2 separate regions of the Homo sapiens genome follow, and region 1 is linked to region 2. Evidence: fine-mapped expression QTL. A gene starts in region 2. The other region holds a variant in brackets. All regions are shown on one strand. Distances are from middle to middle.

Region 1 (4,396 bases), 97 kb before region 2:
CCAAAGACACGTTCATCGTCCCATCATCTAAACCTTCTCTGAACCCCATCTCCCCACTCATCCACACACCCTCAGCCTCCAGCACCTTCCTGTCTCCCAGCCCTGATCAAACTAGGCTGGGCTAGCGTCTGTCTCCCCTACCGGGCTGTGAACTCTTCGGGGGCCTCCAGGAATGTCTGAGATACCGTATGACTGAACGAATGAATCAATGAATGAAGACACAAACAGAGAGGCACCAAGAGACATACAGGGAGAGACAGACACAAAAGAGAAACAGAGAGAGAGGAAGAGAGAGAGAGAGAGTGTGCCTTCGAGGAAGCAATTACACATGAGATGCAGAAAGACAGACACAGCCTGCTGTGAACAGATGTGACTGTGTAGTCACACAGACAAACCTAGAGGTGAAGAGGGACACCCCGATAGACACGACATGCCCCCAGGTGTTTCAGAAACATTTATTAAATGAATGAAATCAAGAAGATGGAGATACAGCAGACAACCAGAGGGTCACTGTCCCCCGAGGACACAGGCAGACACATGTGGATGCTCAGACACTCAGCAGGTGAGGAGGTCCAGAGGAGGCCCCAGCAGGTGGTTGGTGCTGAGGCAGAGACCCCAGGCTAGCACCTCCTGGTTTGTCTCACTTCTTGCTGCCTGGAGATGCTGCCTGCTGGATCAGGCTAGTGGATACTAGCCACAGAGTGGGCACCAGCCATGTGCAGACACCCAGAGTCTCAGACCCACATCTGGATGGCAGAGTCCACGTAACACTGGTGACCAAAAGAGCCTTAATGGTCCCCTCAGATCGACTAAACTTTAGACAGGTTTCTTCCTCTCGGCCCTGGATCACGCTTTTTGTAGGACACTTACTTTAGAAAACTTGTACAGTCATCCCTCGGTATTGTTTTCTATTTCTATTTTTTTTATTGTTTTTTGGTTTCAAAATATTTTTTATCCAAAGTTGACTGAATGCGTGGAGGTAGAACCTGTGGATGCAGAACCCCATAGACACAGAGGGCCAAATATAATTGCAAATTCTTTCTCTGCTCCCCCCGCACCCCCTCTCTTTTTCTTTTTGAGACGGCGTCTCACTCTGTTGCCCAGGCTGGAGTGCAGTGGCGTGATCTCGGCTCACTGCAAGCTCCGCCTCCCAGGTTCACACCATTCTTCTGCCTCAGCCTCCCGAGTAGCTGGGATTACAGGCATGTGCCACCATGCCTGGCTAATTTTTGTATTTGTAGTAGAGACAGAATTTCACCATGTTGGCCAGGCTGGTCTTGAATTCCTGACCTCAAGTGATCTGCCCGCCTCGGCCTCCCAAATTGCTGGGATTACAGACGTGAGCCACTGTGCCCGGCCTTCTCTGCGCCTTTGAAATGTAGGTAAATCTTCTCCTGGTCTCTTGCCAGCGTTACAACCCAGGAATGTCTTTTTCAAGGACCTGGGAATTATCCCTTTGAAATCATCAAGGGAGATAGCACCCCTATCGCCCAGTCTCTGTGGGAGGGTAGGAGCCTCACTTTGATAATTGACAATCAGCAAACTCAGATGGCCCAATCACAGAGAAAAACATTTGCAGACTCAGGAATAACTCCATGTGATGGACACATCCCATTGACAGAATAACTCCATGTGATGGACACATCCCATTGACCCACCTCCCCCATTGTCCTCCAATATTTTTCCATTAACTCACCTAGGGCTTAACCACCCTAGCA[T/C]ATTTGTTTCAGTGGAGTTGAGTTCAGTCTCTTTCCCTATTGCAATCTCCTTGAATAAAGTCTGCCTTGCCTGTGCAATTTTTCTTTGACAGCAGCCACTATGGACACTCACCAAACTATGTCCTCCCTTACTGTCATCTTGCCAAATCCCTCCTCTTCCCATCAGGCCTCACTTCCCAGAACCTGTTTTGCATACAAATTATTCTTCCTTCCTGATTCTCCAGTTTCTGCCCCAGGCTCTCAGTGGGGGTCTATCCAGACCGGGGCAGGGTTGTGCTCGGGGGTCTCTGGAGAGTGGAGTCTGGCCAGGAAGGAGGATGGTTTTTCTGAAGCCCCCGTGGAAGGTGGAGGCACTGAAGGTCTTCACAGCAGTTGTCAGTTTCAGGGATTGAGGCTTACAGGGTAGGCAGACCAGTCTGGTGAATGCATGAGTATGTGAGTGCTGTGTGCACTTTTGATTCTGGTATCATTCAGGTACTTTTGGAGACTTTGAAGTGTCAGCTCCCTGTACCTTTTGGGAGCATCCATCTGGCTGTCTTCATCTGCCTGGTGTCTGAGTGTTCACGAGTCTGTTGAATGCCTTAGAATTCTGAATGCCTTAGAATGTTCTCAAGGATCTTCTGTTGCATTCCATCAGTTTCCACGCATGGTTCCATTTCCAATCATGTTTGCAAACATCTGGCCTCTCAAAATTTTTTTTCATATTTGATTTTCATAAGCAGTTTACTAAATGTGGGTACCTTCTAGGGTTTGTGGCCCAAATAGTTGAGAAGTATTTAGTATTTCTTGCCTTATTGGAAATGATTCCATTAATCAAACAAGTCATAATTGTAATGCGTTTTAAGATATTCCCTAAGTAATGTGGGTCATCCCTTGCTTCCAGTCCTCATGTTCTGCATAAATGTTATTTCACACATTATCAGAATTGTGAATTTTCTTTTGGAACTCTAGTCATGACCTTGTCAAAAATTGGATCATGCAGATTGTATGCCAATATATTCTTTTGTTATTTTGTTATTTTTATTTTTTGAGACCGAGTCTCACTCTGTTGCCCAAGCTGGAGTGCAGTGGCGCCATCTTGGCTCACTGGAACCTCCGCCTCCCAGGTTCAAGTGATTCTCCTGCCTCAGCCTCCCAAGTAGCTGGGATCACAGGTGCCTGCCACCATGCCTGGCTAATTTTTGTATTTTTAGTAGACACAGGGTTTCACCATGTTGGCCAGGCTGGTCTCAAACTCCTGACCTCAGGTGATCCACCCGCCTCGGCCTCCCAAAGTGCTGGGATTACAGGCGTGAACCACCACACCTGGCCTCTTTTGTTGTTTTCACATGCATTCTTCCTGCAGCATCAATATCTCTTTCTTTCAAATCAGATCTTAATTTTCTTTTACAGTTCAGTAGTATCAAGTGTATTCATGTTTTGTACAATCAATATCCAGAACTTTTCATCTTGCAAAACTGAAACTCTTTACCCATCAAACAACTCCCCTTTCTTCTATCCCTCCTCCCCACACCCCCTGGCAAGCATCATTCTACTTTGTTTCTGTGAATTTGACTACTCTAGATCAGGGATCCCCAACCCCCGGGGCCTGGTACCAGTACCTGTTAGGAACGGGGCCGCACAGCAGGAGGTGAGCGGTGGGTGAGGGAGGGAAGATTCATCTGTATTTACAGCCTCTCCCCATTACTTGTACTACCACCTGAGCTCTGTCTCCTGTCAGATCAGTGGCTTAGATTCTCATAGCAGCGTGAATCCTATTGTGAATTGCGTATGCAAGGGATCTAGGTTATGCATTCCTTATGAGATTATAATGCCTGATGATCTGTCACTGTCTCCCATCACCCCTAGAGGGGACCATCTAGTGGCAGGAAAACAAGCTCAGTGGGCCAAGCGTGGTGGCTCATATCTGTAATCCTAGCACTTTGGGAGGCTGAAGCAGGAGGATCACTTGAGGTCGGGAGTTCAAGATGAGCCTGGTCAACATGGTGAAACCCCATCTCTACTAAAAATATAAAAATTAGCTGGGCATAGTGGGCACGCCTGTAATCCCAGCTACTCAGGAGGCTGAGGCAAGAGAATCCTTGAACACGGAAGGCGGAGCTTGTGGTGAGCTGAGATCACACCACTGCAGTCCAGCCTGGGCGACACAGCAAGACACCGTCTCAACAAAACAAAACAAAACAAAACAAAACAAACCCAACAAGCTCAGGGCTCTCACTGATTCTACATTATGGTGAGTTATATAATTATTTCATCATATATTACAATGTAATAATAATAGAAATAAAACGCACAATAAATGTAATGCTCTTGAATCATCTGAAACCATCCCCCACTCCCCAGGTCCATGGAAAAATTGTCTTCCACACAATCAGTCTCTGGTGCTCAAAAGGTTGAGGACCGCTGCTCTAGATAACTCATATAAGTGAAGTCATATAGTACTTGTCCTTTAGTGACTGGCTTATTTCACTTAGCATAATGTCCCGAAGGTATAACCATGTTGTATGTAGCATGTGTCAGAATTTCCTTCCTTTTAAAGGCTGAACAATATCCCATTGTGTGGATACACCGCATTCTATTTATTCATTCATCCTTCCATCAATGGACACTGGGGTTGTTTCGCCTCTGGGCTATTGTGAGTAATGCTGTTATGAATATGGCTGTACAAATATCTGTTT
Region 2 (4,396 bases):
GCAGTGAGCCGAGATCGCGCCACTGCACACCAGCCTGGTGACGGAGCGAGACTCCGTCTAAAAAAAAAAAAAAAAAAAAAAAGAATTGAGTTACAAATGTATACAATTATGCAAATGTAAATATGATTACATTTATAAAATATATGTATTTATCAATATATAGAGAAAAACGGACAGACATCAATAAATTGAAAAAAGTATGGAAAACATAAACCCATATATTAACTTACTTAATATTTGTTTTATAGTCCTGGGTTTCTGCCTATTCCTAAAAGTATATTTCATAAAATTAAAACTTTTTTTAAAAAGGCAACTATCTTACTTATTCCTATTTTGATTTATTCTTCCTTACTGGGATACCAAGTCATTTGAGGATAGCAACTATATCTTTTTGTCTTGAGACACAGTTAGATAGATTTTTGAATTTTTAACAGAGCAATCTTTTCTCTGAACAAGTGGGAAAAAATCCTCCCTGCCTTACCTTTTAAATATCTTTTGATCTGGAGGAGAAAACTTAGTATACTCTAGAACAAAGGTCCTCTAAATATAGTCCCTGGGAACTTGTTACCAATGCAGATTCTCTGCTCTACCTCAGACCTACCGAATTAGAAACTCTGGGGCTGGGGCCCAGCAAACTGTTTGAACAAGCCCTGCAGGTGATTCTGATGCATCCTACATTTGAGAACCAGCGCTGCTCTAAAAACTGCTGCTGTGTTTTATTGAAAGCTTTTACTTTATTTTCATCAGTTCCCATTACCTGAACCCACCCTATGATTCGTTTGCCTGTAGAAATGTATGTCAATGTAAATCGGAGACTCTGATATTTCGTATGCATTACTGGTAGTCTCAAAGCTGCTTCCTATTATACATTCCTGATAGATGGGTTTATTTTACTTCTGAATCTATCCTCCTAATCACAGTGTCCTACAAGCAGCTGTTAAGACATCGTGTTCCATTTAATGTCACTTTGCATTTAACATCATTAGAATAAAAACTCTAAGGTATAAGATCCATTTTCTTTCACTGAGTTCTCACAGTTCGATCATATCCTGACAATGCTGCTATAGCCAGAAAGATGCCTCTTCCCTGTGAACTCCCAAGACAGGTCATCTGAATTTCTCTAGTGGCCTTTCACATCAACTATCTTTCTTATCCCTATTCCGATTTCATTTTCCTTACTGGATACCAAGTCATTTGAGGATAGCAACTATATCTTTTTGTCATTGTATCCTAACAAGTACAAGCACATGGTAAATATCTGATATTTGACTCAAATTTTGAAACTAGGGTTTATCCTCAGGGAATGGCTATAAAAGGAAGCAAAGATCTCTGCAAAATGGTGTTCATTATAGACTAGTTTTTAGTCAACAATTAGAAACATAATAGCTCGCAGTAGGCAAAAGGTTAAATAAATTATGAAGAGAAGGGCTTAAGGGCCTTGAAAGGAGGCTGTAATGGCATATTCACAGATACGTCACTGTTAGGCAGGACATTTCCAAAGAGAAGAAAGGGTCTCATGTCTTTAAAATTAAAGAGCATCTTACAAGTAATGAGGAAATATAAACTCACCTGGACTTTAGCTTTCAGATGTGTAGCAAAAATTCTTTCCTCTTTCAGGATCTTTTTTTTTTTTTTTTTTTTAACAGAAGGGTAGCACTGGAAAAGAGAAGGCAATCATGAGACAGCTGGGGTTTCTTGGATAGCACAGTAACTTAGAAAATACCCTCAATGATCATACCTGCTCACCTACTTCACCGAGCACAACCAGATGGGAGTAGGAGAGAAACTGGAACAGTGTTGACCTTCCCAATACAAGAGAGGCCAAGATCAGTGATGCCTAGGGTGGAATCTGTCTCTAATTCACAGCAGGTTCCTGGGGCTGGAGCTTTAGAAATGCTATGGTTACAAACATAGAGCTGGCTCCTCGGCGCTTCCAAGGGGGAAATATCCAGGAGGGATGCCTATTCCTGAGAACTCTTTATCGAGTCTTCTCAGAGCCTGCCTTGAGGCCGCAACCAATTTCAAAAATCTCGTCTCAAGATCAAGTCTGTGTTTTCTTGCTGGGATCCTTCACGCCTCCATGAATCTGGCTTCTCTCTTTTACCTGCTGCACATCCCAAGTGTCTGTGAGGCGATAGGGCTGAGGAATCTGCAGAGCCTAGAGCCTGGAGTCACAGTGACAATTCACACAGGTACACAACACTGTTCATTTGTCTAACGCACACACACGTACACAACCCTGTTCATTCATCTCACACACACACACACACACACACACACACACAGTCTCTCACAGGCACACAGAAACTCCTCCTCTGCTGCTCAAGCAGACAGGCCTGAAATTCTACTGAAACTCCAGGGATGACACGCCCCGTTCACGCCCTGGGTCTTCTGGTCTTCAGCGCCTCTCATCCTCACCGCCGGTTCCATTCCAACCAGGGACTGTGGAAGCCTCCGCTGATTTCTGTGGAGACGATCTACTCACCACGTAGGGGCTACAGCAGCTCGGACACCGGAAAAAGATCTAGAGCTCGAGGGTGACCCTAGCGCGGTGACTTCTGGGAAATGTAGTCCACCCGGAATAACCATGTCCACGGCGCCCGCCATTCTGTAGCCTATGCTCGGAGGGCACATGAGCAAGAGCTTGACCATCTGTACCGTTGGTTGACTTGCTCTATTAAGGGCTATGATTTCAGGTCGTCCTGCGTGTTTAGAGGAGGCGAGTGGAATCTTGAGTCTCGGCTGGAGAAGGCAGAGCACGGGCATGCAGACCTCAAAGCCTCAAACCTGCGTGTGAGAGGAGAAGTTGGCGAGCTCCAGCGTATGGTCCACGGTTGGTATTCTAGGTGCGAGCTGAGGACAGGGGCTTTTGTTTTTCGCGCTCCCAGGTAGCGCCAGCACCTATAGTAGCTCCAGGAGCACAGAAGGCGTTAAGTGTGCATTGGTTTTAGAGAAAGAATGCCTGTGCGTTTTGTGTTTTCACTCTGTGACATTGTGAAATTCATTGTGTGAGAACATGGATGGGGTTGTATTCCGGATTATGGTTTGTTTCTAAGTGTGTTACTTTGGACATGAAATGGTTTGTTTCAGATTTTGAGATTATGTAAATTTTTTAAGCCCTCTCCCTTCACTCCTACTCCCACTCTGAAATTTCTCATGCCCAATTGCCATTCTCTCACTTAAAATACGAGTCTGGCTGATTTGTCCAAGGTAAATACTACTATGGCCTACTTATCCATTAGGCTGAATGGGCAAAGTACCGAGAGCCCACAGAAATGTTTTCTTTCAAAATAAGAAAATGAATTTTAAGGTCAAAGAAACTTAATATCGTAGTCTACTGGCGAGTGTATAAATTGATATAATCACTTGGGAAAACTATTTGGCAAGATCTATTGAATTTGAATATATGCATTTGCTATAACCTAGCAGTTCCATTCTTACCTTTAACCCAAATGTAAGTGTATACATATTCACCAAAATACATGAATGGGGATGTTTGTGGCATTGCCATTTTTATTGGAATTGCACTCAATATATGGGTACTTTTCAGGAAAATTGGTATTTTAAACATTGTGAAAAGGCTGGGCGTGGTGGCTCATGCCTGTAATCCCAGCACTTTGGGGGGCTGAGGTGGGTGGATCACTTGAGGTCAGGAGGTCGAGACCAGCCTGGCCAACATGGCAAAACCCCGTCTCTAGTAAAAATACAAAAATTAGCCAGGTGTGGGGGCCCGTGCCTGTAGTCCCAGCTACTTGGGAGGCCGAGGCAGGAGAATCGCTTGAATCCAGGAGGTGGAGGTTGCAGTGAGCCGAGATCGTGCCACTGCACTCCAGCCTGGGAGAAAGTGTGAGATTCTGTCTCCCCCTACAAAAAAAGAAAAAGAAAATTGAGAAGGGACCTCCAGGAAGATGGAATAGATGTACTTTTTTCTATTTGTCCAGCTAAGTACAATAAAAACCCTGGGCATTAGTTATAAAAAAAGAGAAAAAGAACACTGAGTGGTAGAGAAAAGGTAGACTGGTGCTGAGTTCCCTTGATTTTCTTTGTGCCTCCTTTGTGCCAGACTTAAAGCCAAAGAAGCTAGCAGTCCCAATACACCAATGGGCACAGACAAAAAAGTCCCAGCAAAAGCCTGCTGTCTTTAGCCAAAAGACAAGGAAGAGGGCAGCCTAGCAAGAAGGAAAACTTTTAGACAATTACTGCCATGCTCTAGTCAAAACACCACAGGAAAAACCTTCAGCACTATCCCCAGCATGCCAGCAAAGACCCATGCTTCCACTCTTGCCTGGAGAGTTAGGACTTTCCTCCCCACCCCTCAACCCAGTGCTAACAGTAGAAGCCACATGGAGTGCAGTAATAAGGCACTCCTTTCCCTCCAAATTAGAAAGGTATCAGT

What was found.
Region 1: its variant is fine-mapped to the expression of ZNF45-AS1 in substantia nigra (GTEx, PIP 0.95).

The regions. Positions count from the first base shown.
Region 1 is chr19:43,802,779-43,807,174 of GRCh38, forward strand. It overlaps a transcript of LYPD5 not described here. Among named protein-coding and RNA genes, the nearest start is that of LYPD5, 2.5 kb to the left of the region's middle. The variant T/C (reference allele first, on the strand shown) is at 1,719.
Region 2 is chr19:43,899,299-43,903,694 of GRCh38, forward strand. It overlaps ZNF45-AS1 (ZNF45 antisense RNA 1), which reads left to right and starts at 2,568. Exons shown (of 3, transcript NR_184050.1): 1 at 2,568-2,846. It overlaps LOC100505715 (a long non-coding RNA gene), which reads right to left and starts at 2,505. Exons shown (of 3, transcript NR_038334.1): 1 at 1,739-2,505; 2 at 1,570-1,656. RefSeq lists an enhancer at 2,439-2,508.